Homo sapiens: one gene and its partner. The protein of the gene in region 2 interacts with the protein of the main gene of each other region in a pairwise test. Each region holds a gene or a part of one and is shown on either strand. Other genes may lie near its edges.

Evidence for each region. Proteins that work in one complex are often made in the same cells at the same time.
Region 1: the proteins of SNAP23 (region 2) and NAPB interact in binary tests that used the Homo sapiens proteins (3 or more experiments, as listed by UniProt).

The regions. Positions count from the first base shown.
Region 1 is NC_000020.11:23,376,488-23,383,514, forward strand, and holds part of NAPB (beta-soluble NSF attachment protein), read right to left. Parts: intron 4,831-7,027; coding exon 4,726-4,830; intron 3,449-4,725; coding exon 3,380-3,448; intron 3,009-3,379; coding exon 2,958-3,008; intron 1,000-2,957; coding exon 889-999; 3' UTR 1-888. UniProt on the Homo sapiens protein: Required for vesicular transport between the endoplasmic reticulum and the Golgi apparatus.
Region 2 is NC_000015.10:42,526,609-42,533,560, reverse strand, and holds the end of SNAP23 (synaptosomal-associated protein 23), read right to left. Parts: intron 5,300-6,952; coding exon 5,141-5,299; exon of another isoform or gene 5,090-5,140; coding exon of another isoform or gene 5,060-5,089; intron 3,887-5,059; coding exon 3,742-3,886; intron 2,149-3,741; coding exon 2,083-2,148; 3' UTR 503-2,082; downstream 1-502. UniProt on the Homo sapiens protein: Essential component of the high affinity receptor for the general membrane fusion machinery and an important regulator of transport vesicle docking and fusion.

The DNA of each region.
Region 1 (7,027 bases), on a different chromosome or scaffold from region 2:
CAAGATTTCTATAGTCACAGCACAGAACACACCACCTCAACGTGGGAAAGTGTATAAACATGAAAATAATGAGCAGGCTATGCCAATTAAAATACTTCAATGTAAATATAAAGGGATTTCCACTCCAACTAAAAGTGAAAACTATCTCCAGAAAAAGAGAAAAATTCCATTTCTAACAGATCTTGTGATATGTGTGTGTGTGTAAACGCGTGTGTCTAAGTACAAATCAAATTCACTTTGACACTCATCCATACATGAAGCAAGTACTTCCAGAAAGCTCCCTTCCTCACAATGTGATGCCTACAGACCCTGGCTATTCTAAATTTTTGCCATGCACATGTTAGCATACGGAACAACACAAAAAGCAAAGAAACTAGTCACTAGCACCATCAAAATAATCACAGGATAACAAAAATAGAAATGATTTCTAATGAAGTTATAAACTCATTCCTAGTAACTGTCCTAAACTAAACACACATTTAAAGAACATATTCAGATGCCAAAGCACAGAGAAAATGCAAAGCATCTATGAGAACAACTGGGCTGAGTACTCAAGTCCAACAAAAAGGACATAAAAACACGTGGCAACATTAAACATAGGCTCCACAAATACCAATGAAATATGAGGAATGAGATTCTGAAGTACTTCTCAGAAAACGCTGGGGGTTCTGATAAGCATGAAACAACCCATCATTACCACAAGATGAACAGGAGCCTCTCCTTCATTCATTTCACAGCAACACAGACTTGGCGAGCTTAAACAATACACAGGCCGTCTGGCTCATATGCAACAAAATTAAGCCATTAAATAGGCATCCCATAAAGATCACTTGACCCTAAGACAAAACTAAAGAGGAGTTAGCTGCATGCCACAAAGACAAAAACATTTCATTTTAGGTCTCCATCTCCTTCTCCATCCCCTTGGATGGACTTTTTGATGCGAAGCAACATGGTGGTCAGCCACTGATCCAAGCGAGATATTGAGTCAAATTCCTTCACCTAGTATAAGGAAAGAGGAACAGGAATTACCCCATGTAAATACATTAAAAACACAAAATAATAGTACCCCAAGCTGTTTATACCTTTACAGCCATAATCTACTAACTTTCTTCATCATTTGAAATTAATCATTCCAGTTTATAACTTTCTTCATTAAAAAATTGTTTATTTTTTCATTATCCTGTTACTATTTTGATACTAGTGACAAGTTCCTGGGCTTGACATTTCTCTGTTTTCAAACGTGTAAGAAAAAAATTCATTAACAGTCATAATTATTGTGGCAAAAGTAACTGGATATTGTATAAAAATTTGAAAGGAATATGGAAAATTAATACTCACTGAACATGGGAAAACATTAATTACAGAGTTAGAATATGTATGGAAGCGGAATTAACACATTTCAATGCATTACCCAAAAATAAAATTACAATAGGATGAAAATGATGTGGTAGGCAAAAGTCAGACAGGAAAACATTCCTTTCCTCTATCACTCCTGAGCTGTGATGAACATGTTACAGGAGGCTACTGAGAAATTTGCTTGAGGCTGGATGTAGTGGCTCATGCCTGTAATCCTTGAAGTCTGGGAGGCCAAGGCAGGTGGATAGCTTAAGCCCAGGAGTTAAGAGACCAGCCTGGGCAACATGGTGAAACCTTGTCTCAACAAAAAATGCAAAAAAAAAAAAAAAAATTAGCTGGGGGTGGTGGTGTGCACCTGTAGTCCCAGGTACTTAGGAGTCTCAGGTGGGAGGATCACCTGAACCCAGGAGGTTGAGGGTGCAGTGAGCCGTGATCACACCACAGCACTCCAGCCTGAGTGACAGAGTGAGGATCTGTTTCAAAATATATAAAAACATTTTTTTTTGCTTGATTCTAAACATGAGATGGCAAAAGATGGAAAAACAAAAAGTATAAAGAAAAAAACCCTCATATTTTTAATATATATATATATTTATTATTTATTTATTTATTTTTGAGATGGAGTTTCACTCTTGTTGCCCAGGCTGGAATGCAATGGCGTGATCTTGGCTCACTGCAACCTCCACCTCCTGGGTTCAAGAGATTCTCCTGCCTCAGCCTCCCGAGTAGCTGGTATTACAGGCACACTCCACCATGCCTGGCTAATTTTTGTATTTTTAGTAAAGATGGTGTTTTGCCATGTTGGCCAAGCTGGTCTCAAACTCCTGATCTCAGGTGATCCACCCGCCTTGGCCTCCCAAAGTGCTAGGATTATAGGTGTGAGCCACCGTGCCTGGCCACCTTCCATTTATTTCATGCCACAAATACAGCAAATTCTCACTACTTAGTTTTTATATTTTAAATTATATTTAATTTTTTTTTTCTTTTTTTTTTTGAGACAGAGTCTCGCTCTGTCACCAGGCTGGAGTGCAGTGGTGCAATCTCAGCTCACTGCAACCTCTGCCTCCCGGGTTCAAGCGATTCTCCTGCCTCAGCCTCCCGAGTAGCTGGGACTACAGGCGTGTGCCAGCATGCCTGGCTAATTTTTATATTTTTAGTAGAGACGGGGTTTCACCATGTTGGCGAGGATGGTCTCAATTTCCTGACTCATGATCTGCCTGCCTCGGCCTCCGAAAGTGCCAGGATTACAGGTGTGAGACGCCGTGCCTGGCCTTAACTAATTTTACTTTATACTTATTTATGGGTCAGATTATTTTCAAAAGAAAAAATTAAAACAGCAAATTATAAGAATATAAATGGAATATTTGCTCCTGAACTAGTCTCACAGCTAAATTAGTTTTGAGTGTAAGTCGAATCTCAGCATGGCTAATGGAACTGTTTAATTTGTGTGATATATAAAAGGTGACGTTTGGAAAATACAACTTAAGGTATGCTGGAGTCATGTTCAAATAAATGTTTAGAATTCACATAATGAAAAGGAAAAGAAGTTTCTTTAACTTAAATCTTCAAATAATGTACCATGTCCCAAAAGCATAACTTACTGCTTCAGTGTAAGCTTCACTGTTCTGTTCTTCATGAGCTTCTAGGAGTTTCTGGTAGCATAAAAATATTTTAAAAAACAGTTCTGTAAGATGAAGTCCCATTTCTAAATATATACTTTAAGTATAATACCAATGTTGCCAAATATTGCACAAAACTGAGGAAATACTCATATACAAGTCAAGAGCCAAGTTAGGGATCTAGCTTCTGTAGTAACATTTCTCAGGTGCCTATTTCAGAACACAACTACATGTTTCTGACCTTAATTGCATTTGAACACCTATAATACGAAAGCAGGAAAGTACCAGGGCCCCTCAGTTAGCAGACTTTATAGATTAAAACTTCACTTCATACCCAATCCCACTTAGGTGTTGTCACCTAACAGAACAAAAGCATTTTTCTTCAAAGTTCTAATATTACTTACTTTCAATAATTTACATTCTCTTGAATCAGTAAATGCTGGAAACATTTCCTCATATTTCTCAAGAGCAAGCTGAGAGAGAAAAACCACTCATCAATTTCAGACTTACTAAACAAACAAAGCTTTCAACATTCTATCAGCTTCAAATAAGATCTACCTATATCCTATTAAGTGTTGAAAAAGTATGTAGTTAAACTCAAAAGCAGAATCAACATAGAAAATCTTTCTATTCTGAATTTTCCATTTCAATAAAGAATAATTTCTAAACTACTTTTTTCTGAGTTAGGCTGCTGCTGAGAAGACATTGTAAATGAAAATGAATTCTTAAACACTCACAGACCAGGTATCTGTATCCATCCATTAAATGGAGACGTTCTTAATACAGTCCAGATTCCAAATAAATTACATTTAGCTTCCTGCTCGAAGCTGACAGAAAGAACAGTTTCTCTTACTGGCTTTAGTTCTGCTCTTCCAACTCCAGACACTGGCCATGCCAAGGCTGCCTGTCTTTTTGCCTCTTGGCTCCCAGTGCTCACTGTGCTTTTCAACTTCTTCCCAGTCCTCACTCCAACACCATTTCTGAGCTTGCCTGTTGTTTTGGTTGTTTTTTAAATGGATATTATCCTACTCTTATTGTCTCCTCCCTTAGTTCCTTAATTTCTTTCTTTTTTTTTTTTGAGACGGACTCTTACTCTGTCACCCAGGCTGGAGTGCAGTGGTGCGATCTCAGCTCACTGCAACCTCTGCCTCACAGGTTCAAGTGATTCTCCTGCCTCAGCCTCTCAAGTAGCTGGACTTACAGGCACCCGCCACCACACCCAGCTAATTTTTTTATATTTTTAGTAGAAACGGGGTTTCACCATTTTGACCAGGCTGGTCTCAAACTCCTGACCTCAGGTGCTCCACCCCACTTGGCCTCCCAAAATGCTGGGTTTACAGATGTGAGCCACCACGCCTGGCCCCCTTAATTTCTTTAAAGCAAAACTACTGAAAAAAAAATGGTGGCTACCAGTGAACATATACATATATTTAAGCCTATAGCACTAAATATTCCCAGGCAGTGCCCCCCATTCAAGTACCAGGCTCTACACTGCTTAGCTTCTGAGATCAGACGAGATTGGGTGTGTTCAGGGTGGTATGGCTATAAACTATCAGGTAACTTTTGAGAACAGCTTTGACAGCTGTTAAAAGATTACAACTGGGACACATACCACAGAATAATACTTATTTTTAATGTACCCGTTTATTCTTGGTACTAACATCAAAATGAAATGATACCAAGAACAAGAGAGAATGTGTACGTATTCTTATGGGTGAAATCAGTCAATCAATGCTGAAGAACTCCTTACCTTGGCATTCAACTCGTCTACTATGAAGTGGCAGAGGGCAGCTTTGAAGAAGTAATCCTTTGCACTGTATTTCAACAAAGGATTATCCATTGTGTTTGCCCCAACCTAGGCACAGAACGCAGAGTTAAATTTAAAAGATTTACCCTCTTATATCAGGCAAAGTCATTCTCATCTGTTGTCCTTTAGAAAATAATTATGTATCTTATGTTTGTTTAGCTATGAAATATATTATTTTATCCGAATACCATATAGTAGAAATTTTACTAGACAAGACCATTAAATACATGAAGTCTTAACCAGTTAAAAATAGCTCAGAAGAATTCTGCTTCCAATAAGATGGAGTAAACATCCTTTCCCCTAATCCTCCCACTAAGCACTACTAAAAGCCCAGGTCATTTTCTAAAAAACAAACGTTTCCCAAGGGAAAACGTGGTAGTGGGTTCCCTCAGTTTTCTTTTCCCTTCCTATATCCATGGCATGAAACTGAAGAACCAGCAACCCAGAAATGCCAGTATGCACAGATAAAAAGAGAAGAGACAAAAGCCTGCTCTCTCTGGCCAAAGGACTAGAAAAGGGGCAGCCCAGCAAGAGAGAAAACACTTAGACAATAACTGCTCTACTCCAGCCAAATATCACAGAAAAACTGAGGCCCTAACTCCATTTACATCATCAAAGGCTGAAGAAGGAGTCCTAAAGTCCATTCTTGAAAGACTGTAAGAAGCACCCCAATACCTCTGCTTAGGAGCTTCAGAGAAGGCCAAATAGGGAGCTGAGGCTTGATCCCCACCCAACCCCCTGACACTAAGGCAGTGCAGACCACACTGGGAGCCTGCATCCTGTCTCTGTCAAGCAGGAAAGAGGTTCCCCTTCTTTCTCCAGCTGGTGTGCTGTCAGAAGAGGTCTAGTGGAGGGTGAAGACTCTCACCATACCAAGAACAAACCAGCACTGTGCTGGCAGAAACAGATAAGGAGAGGGGATGCCACTTCTGCCCAGGGCTGACTAGGCCCCTCAGGTGTCAACAGAGACCTGGTGGAAAGCTGACACTTCTACCTCCACCTGGCAGTAATGAGGTAACATCCCCACCTTCCCCAGCCAGAGGAATGTCAAAGAAGGCCAACTGAAAAGAGAACGTTTAAACAAGACCCAGTCTCATAACCTAATGTGCAAATGCCCTGTTTTCAATCAGAAATGACTTGTAATACCAAAAACACAGGAAGATCTCAAGCTAAATGAAAAAAGACCATTAACAGATGATGGTTCCAGATGACGGAAATGTCCAAAATATCCCACGAAGATTTTAAAGAAGCCCTCATAAAAATGCTCCAAAAAGCAAGTACAATAACACCTGAAGCTAATGGAAAAATGGAAAGCATCCACAAAGAAAAAGGAAGCCACAGGAAAAAAGATATAAAGTAAAAACAAATAAAAATTTCAGAACTGAAAAAAAAAAACAGTACCATACATAAAAAGTGGGTGGGCTCAACAGCAGGATGAAAGGGACAGAGGAAAGAAGCACTAAATGGAAGACAACAACAGGAACAACAGAGAGAAGACAAACTGACAAAAAGGAACAGAGCATCAAGGACCCATGGGATAATAAAACAGTCTCACTTTTGTGGCATCTGTGTTCTAGAAGGGGAGGAGAAAGAGAAAAGGGCTGGCTGGGCATGGTGGCTCACGCCTGTAATCCCAGCACTGTGGGAGGCCAAGGCAGGCGAACCACTTGAGGTCAAGAGTTCAAGACCAGCCTGGTCAACATGGCGAAACCTTGTCTGTACTAAAAATACAAAAATTAGCCAGGTGTGGTGGCAAGCACCTGTAGTCCCAGCTACTTGGGAGGCTGAGACAGGAGAATTGCTTGAACCTGGGAGGCAAAGGTTGCAGTGAGACAAGATTGCGCCATTAAACTGGCACGCCTGGGCGACAGAGCAAGACTCGGTCTCAAAAAAAAAAAAAAAAAAAAAAAGGAAGCTGAAAAAGTACTTGAAGAAATAACTGCTAAATGATTCTCAAATTTGACAAGAAACATAAACCTACAGATTCTGTAAGTTTAGGGAAACTCAAATAGCTTAAAACCAAATATATCTATCCAAGCCACATTATAATTAAACTTTTGAAACTAAAAGAAAAAAATTATGAAAGTGTCTAGAGAATAACACCTTTTTTATAGGGGAAAACAAGTTGAATGACAGCAGACTTCTTATCAAAAACAATGGAGGCCGACTAGGCGTTGTGGCTCATGCCTGTAATCCCAGCACTTTGGGAGGCTGAGGTGGGTGGATCACTTGATGTCAGAAGTTT
Region 2 (6,952 bases):
GGTAAATGGTTTTAGGAAAGGCATTTAGGTAAAGCACAATCCTCCGTTTTACACCTTACTTTACATATTTACCATCCCTGCCAAACCACTCATTTTGACATGGAGCATTTCTATTACAGAGGGTGTAGTTGCATCTCACTTTATTTAAATATTTTCCTCTTTAGCCTTTGAAAGCTCCCACATTAACTGTATCTTCTCCAGTGAGTTGTAGTTCTCACACAGAACCATTACCCTTCCAGTCACTAGTGTATTTAAGCTCAAGTGAGTAAGACTAGTAATGATTAAAATGAACCTCACAATAAATTTTTAGCAAGGTAAGTTTAAGTCCCATCAATATTTTCAATAAATACTGGAAAGATGCTAAAGGCAGCTTCCTGCTGTAGTGTTTCTTGATGTATGGATCTTTGCTTTATTAATTTGTTAAATGAGAGCTGATGAAACTATTTTCCCCCAAATAACAGTCATAGAAACATGTTACCTATTTGAAAGAACAATACCATTAGTTAGTTAAAAAATTTAATTGTAAGGATCAAGCAGTGGTTATTGGTGAAACCAATACACACTGACAGCTTTGAAGTGTTCAGATGCTAATTTTAAAATAAATGTGACAAATACCAATCAGATGTTCATAACACTTTTCAGGATCCACATCAACTTGATTATGGACATAGTTCAATACACAAGGGTAAGAGAAAGAGTGTGTAATCACCAATAATTAAACCAGAGGCATAATTTTTTCAAATAATTTTTAGTTACAGAATAAATTCTAACTTTTTAAAGTCTAAAGCTACATAAAACTCAAAGCAATCTATTTTTCTACCTGAGGTCAAAATGACTTTCCTTTTTCCTAACTAAACATAATTCTTAGCATTGAGGTAAATCTGAATTCATGTGGTATGCTTTGTCAAACTTTTCCAAAAAATTTTAAGCCCTGCTTTAGAGAGAAATTCTCATGTTACACATATATATTTACATATTTTTTCTTCAAAGACTAATGACAATGTATGATGTTAATAGGCCTGTAATGGAACCATGATACTACTAATAATATGAAATAAAAAGCCACTCATTTATATAAAGTGTTCCTGAATGGTGCAATAAGAAATGGGATCACAGATTTATGTACATATATGAATCACTAAGAGTTCAGAAATTAAGCTCACTTTAAGAAAACTCAGCCAGGCACAGTGGCTCACGCCTGTAATCCCAGTACTTTGGGAGGCCAAGGCGGGTGGATCACGACGTCAGGAGTCCAAGACCAGCTTGACATGGTGAAACCCTGTCTCTACTAAAAATACAAAAATTAGCCGAGCGTGGTGACACACGCCTGTAATCCCAGCTACTCAGGAGGCAAGGCAGGAGAATTGCTTGAACCAGGGAGGCGGAGGTTGCAGTGAGCCCAGATCGCGCTATTGCACTCCAGCCTGGACAAGAGAGCGAGACTCTGACTCCAAAAAAAAAAAAAAGAAAGAAAACTCATTCTATTTTTCTCTTTGGAGCAGAGGTTGCAAAACTGTGATGCCTAACAAAAACGTTGTGTATAAAAGCTCCAAAACCAAGCATTAGCCTAAATTGGCTATAACTGCAACTTAAATCAAAAACTATATCCAACTAGATCTTCGTTGTGGCTATGCAACTTTTTGCTTTGTGGCCTGAAGGTTTTTACTGAGGTAACAACCTCTTATCTCTTGTCCTTCCCTCAACCACAAAAGCAAAAATAAACAACAACAAAAAACACCTCTACAGCTTCCTTCTTCATGGCTGTCTTTGGCAATGCTTCCAAATCTTGAAAGCAAAAGAACCTGCTGAAGTATATGAGGAGGATGAAAACACTAAACATGACATATGAAAACCAATCTAAGCGTATGAATTGAGAAAGAAAATACTAGAAGGAAGGCAGAGCAGCAGTCGGCCCTCAACAGAAAACAAAAAAGAAGGAGGGCTGTAACTGCTCTGGCCCTTCTTCCATATTATCTCCCAATTAGAAGAGCGTGGAACCGAAAACTTAAACTCTGAAAAGGTAATAACTTTCAAGGAGGAGCTACGGAAGTGAATAAATGATAAAGAAGAACAGCAGTAGCTTTAGCTGTCAATGAGTTTCTTTGCTCTGGCATTGGCAATATCAATACGATCTCTGTTGGTGTCAGCCTGAAAAACAAGAAAGATATCAGCTTTACAAGGTAAGTAACTCTAATAAAAATTAAACTTTTTACACTTGGAGTAACTGACACACCAAGAAAATCCAAGAAACCACGTGAAGTTACATTACAAAACTCATGTTGGGCAAGAAGTAACAGAATATGAAATTCATTTGGAAAACCCCTGGTATATAAACATGACAAAGGTGTAACATATAAGACCTTGCCAATATTTCATAAATTCTATAACGCATTTTTTCATAGTTTAACATGCCTGAAACTGGGATGCATCCTGTAATCAATGGCATTTTTTGATGCAATGAAATATGAAAGAGTGCTCTTCTCTGTTAAAGATCTGGACCTTGTGTGAGTCCTCTGAACTGAATCATAGAATCTCATCTGGATTCAGACACCCTAAGTCTAACCTGGAGAGACTGAAATAACCTTTCCAAAGATCTTTGAAACGAATCTATTACCATCCTCACCAACATCTGAATTAAAATGACAGGTAAATATAGCCTAAACCCAGACTGCAGCATTTAAAGCATCTTGTGAACCACTGTTTCAATTAAATCCATCAAAAGTGATTTAACAGAGAGCCAAGCTTAAAAACTCACCCTAAAGTTCACTGAGATTTTAATGAGGTATGACTTTCTTTTTTTCCTTTCTTTTTGAGAAAGGGTCTCACTCTGTTGCCCAGGCTGGAATGCAATGGTGCAATCACAGCTCACTGCAGCCTTCAACTCCTACACTCAAGCAATCCTTCTGCCTCAGCCTCCCGAGTAACTGGGACAATAGGCACATGCCACCATGCCTGGTCAATTTTTAAATTTTTTTAGTAGAGTCGAGGTCTTGCTCTGGTCTCAAACTCCTGAGCTCAAGCAATCCTCCTGCCTCCGCCTCTCAAAGTGTTGAGATTACAGGTGTGAGCTACCACGGTTGGCCAAGGTATGACTTTACATGTGACACATCAAAACACTGAAAACAATTTCGCTTTCACTATATTTATATCATGTAAAGTTAAGGGGGAAAAAAAAGAATCACAACTTTCTTTCACTCACATGACTCTATTTCGTGTGTCCACTCCATAAGAACTATTCTGCAGAACAGATTTTCACCTACGGACTCTTTCATGAGATGAGGATTCAGGAACTTAATTTATTTTTAGTTAACAAAATAGGCTGATGTGGGAGGAACGCTTTAGCCTAGGAGGCAGGCTGCAGTGAGCTGTGATTGTACCACCACACTACCCTAGGCGACAGAGCAAGACCCCATTCTCAATTAAAAAATTAGTTAACAAAATAAAACTCATTTGGGAGAGAAAAAAACACGCTCAAAAGCTAAAGTAGATACTAAGCTTCATGTGTGAAGGTTTAAGTAAAACTACTATATTCCAAAACTCTGGTTTCAAAATGCACCAACTACCATGACAGGGAGGACTTGGCTCTTGTTTTATGTGTTAGAACCACCACCTCATCAGAATTAAGACCTATGAGGACAGGAGCTTATTCTACCGTGTCCCCCACAGTATCTAGCACAGATGTCTATTACTGAAACACTGAACTGGGTGTCTCATTTTCTTGTGGCAATAAAAAGCTTTTACCTTGTCTGTGATTCGTTTTATTTGTGGATTTTGAGCATCAATCTCATTGCCTATGTTCAGGGCCATGTCTTTTAGATTTCCCAGGATACTGCCCACTTGAGTCAGGTTCTCTTCCATTTCATCTTCTCTGGCATCATTAGTTATGCTATCACAAGAAGACAGTTAATTCCATAGGTTTTGTTGAATTTAAATAAAAGTCTGGATTTACTTTTCACAAAAGTAAGTAACCAAAATGACTCTCAGCAAGTATAAGATCCAAAAGAATATAGGTTACCATTCCTGGGAAACATTCTATAATAAAAACTGGGAGACTCATCAAAGAGAGCACAGTATCTTAAAGCCATGTAAGAAAAGAAAGAAACTCTGAAACAGTGTTTCTCAAAGCTTAATTCCCAGCATCACCTGGGAAGCTGTTAGACATGAGAATGCTAATTCTCACACTCCATTCCAGACCTACTCAATCAGAAACTGTAAGTGCATCCCAGAAACCTACGGTTTAATAAGCCCCTCAAGTGGTTCTAATGCACAGTTAAGTCTATCTAAAGAAGCACTGCCCTAAGAGAGAGGTTGGAAAACTACGGCCCAAGGACCAAATCTGGCCACCATATGATTTTGTAAATCAAGTGTTATTCAAACACAGCTGTGCTCATTTGTTTACATATTGTTTATGCCTGCTTTAACCCTACAACAGAGTTGAGTAATTGCAAGGGACTGTATGGCCTGAAAAGTCTGAAATATTAACTCTCTGGCTCGTTACAGATCTTCTTACAGGAATCTAGCTGACCCTTGTTCTAGATGACACATTTTAAAACCTATTTTTTTCTATATATAAAAGTAAAATATGTCTAGTTCAATAATTTGGAAAGTACTGAAAAGTATAAAGAAAAGTTAATTCCATCACCCAAGGTCAACCACCACAGTCAACATTTTGTCTGGCCAGGTGTGGTAGCTTATGCCTGTAATCCCAGCACTTTGGGAGGCCGAGGCAGGTGGATCACCTGAGGTCAGGAGTCCAAGACCAGCCTGGTCAACATGGTGAAACCCTGTCTCTACTAAAAATACAAAAATTAGCTGGGCGTGGTGGCGCACACCTGTAGTCCCAGCTACTCGGAAGGCTGAGGCAGGAGAATAACTTGAACCTGGGAGGCAGAGGTTGCAGTGAGCTGAGATCACGCCACTGCACTCCAGCCTGGGCAACACAGCAAGACTCTGTCTCAAAACAAAACAACAAATAAAAAAAACCCACATTTTGTCAGTGGGCAGATTTTTAAATGCATTTTAAAAATGGAATAAATACAATTTTTATTTGTTTTATTAGGGGTCATGTACTGCTAAACTCATCTCCTAAGTGAACCATTCATTAAGAAAGGTACAGGAATATCAGGAGGAGTTGGCATACCGTTTAATGTATCCACCACTGGCTGCTCCCGTTGTTGGTTGCTGAAGCTGACCATTTGTCACCGGGCCTGGCTGTTTAGATACTACATTGCAAGGTGAGTTTTCTCCACCATCTCCCCATGTTGTCTTATAAGCCTTGCCAGACTCAAAGTTCTTTGTTCTATATAAGAGTCAGGAGTGTAGGGAGATACCAAAAAAAAGAAGACGGAGAGTTCTAATTATTAGTGCCTGTTACCTTGAGGATGACACTAATAACTCTAGTAGAAAAGCTGCATACAGCTAAGTCTAGATGATCTACACTATGCTCCATGGCAATATGGAATAGGAAATAGATGAATTATGTAAACCCATTGACACTAAAAAAAATTTTAAAAAGGTCCAAATACTACTTCTACCAAATCTTCACTAGGCTGTTAGCAAGTAGCAAAAGGCAACTATTTGATTTTTCAGGTTCCCTTAGCCTCTGGCACTATCGTTTTGCTTTTCTCTTCCTAGTGTATCCAGCACTATCTAGAAAAGAGGTTAATGCACATTACTTAAAAAAAGGTCCCTTAGAAAAGGTGTTCTGGGATACCTTAAGAGGTTCCTTGAAGGCATCTCAGAGGTTGACAAGGGATGACAGAATAAGAAGGCTGATGCTGGGTGCAGTGGCTCACGCCTGTACTCCCAGCACTTTGGGAGGCCAAGGCGGGTGGATCGCTTGAGCTCAGGAGTTTAAGATCAGCCAGGGCAACACAGCAAAAACCCATCTCTCAAACTCCTGACCTCAAGTGATCCATCCACCTCGGCCTCCCAAAGTGCTGGGACTACAGGCTCGTGAGCCACTGCTCCCTGCCTCAAAATGCCATCTCTATAAAAAAATACAAACATTAGCTGGGTGTGGTGGCACACGCCTGTGGTCCCAGCTACTCGAGAGGCTGAGGTGGGAGGACTGCTTGAGCCCAGAAGGTCGAGGCTGCAGTGAGCCATGATAGTGCCACTGCACTCCAGCCTGGGTGACAGAGTGAGACCTAATCTTAAATAAATAAATAAAATTTTAAAATAAGAAGACTGAATTTGAACCAGCGTAGTTCCAGCTGATCAGTTTTTATTAGAATTTTCCATGAAATTTTAAACAATGGTTTCTTACAAACAAACCAGCCATCAGGAAAGAAAGGCATGAATAATTTCCAAATTGGACAATCAGCGGACAAATAAGTACCTTGACCACACAAGCGGTCATTCATAAATCCTGTAGTGTAGGAGTTTTTCATTTAAGAGTTTCCTCTTTAAAAAAACGATCAAGGCCGGGCACAGTAGCTCACACCGGTAATCCCAGCACTTTGGGAGGCCAAGGTGGGTGGATCACCTGAGGTCAGGAGTTCAAGACCAGCCTGGGCAACATGGTGAAACCCCATCTCTACTAAAAATACAAAAATTAGCTGGGTGTGGCACCACGTGCCTATAATCCCAGCTACTGGGGAGGCTGAGGCAGGAGAATCGCTTGAACCCAGGAGGCGGAGGTTGCAAGGAGCCAAGATCACACCACTGCACTCCAGCCTGGGCAACAGAGCGAGACACTCCATCTCAAAAAAAAAAAAAAATCATAAGTCTAAGTGTCTTAAAAAGAAAGAAAAAGTGGCTATTACAGGGAAAAAAAAATGGCTGTTACGGAAAAGTGACACAAAACTTTTCTTGATTATTTGGCTAAAGTCAAGCTTTCATTCAATTTTAGTTTTCACTTTTCTATAAACAAAAACGAAATAGTATGTTGCTCAAATATTGATCTCTGATTTATTCTACATTTTACATTAATAAGGAAGTTTTAAAATTG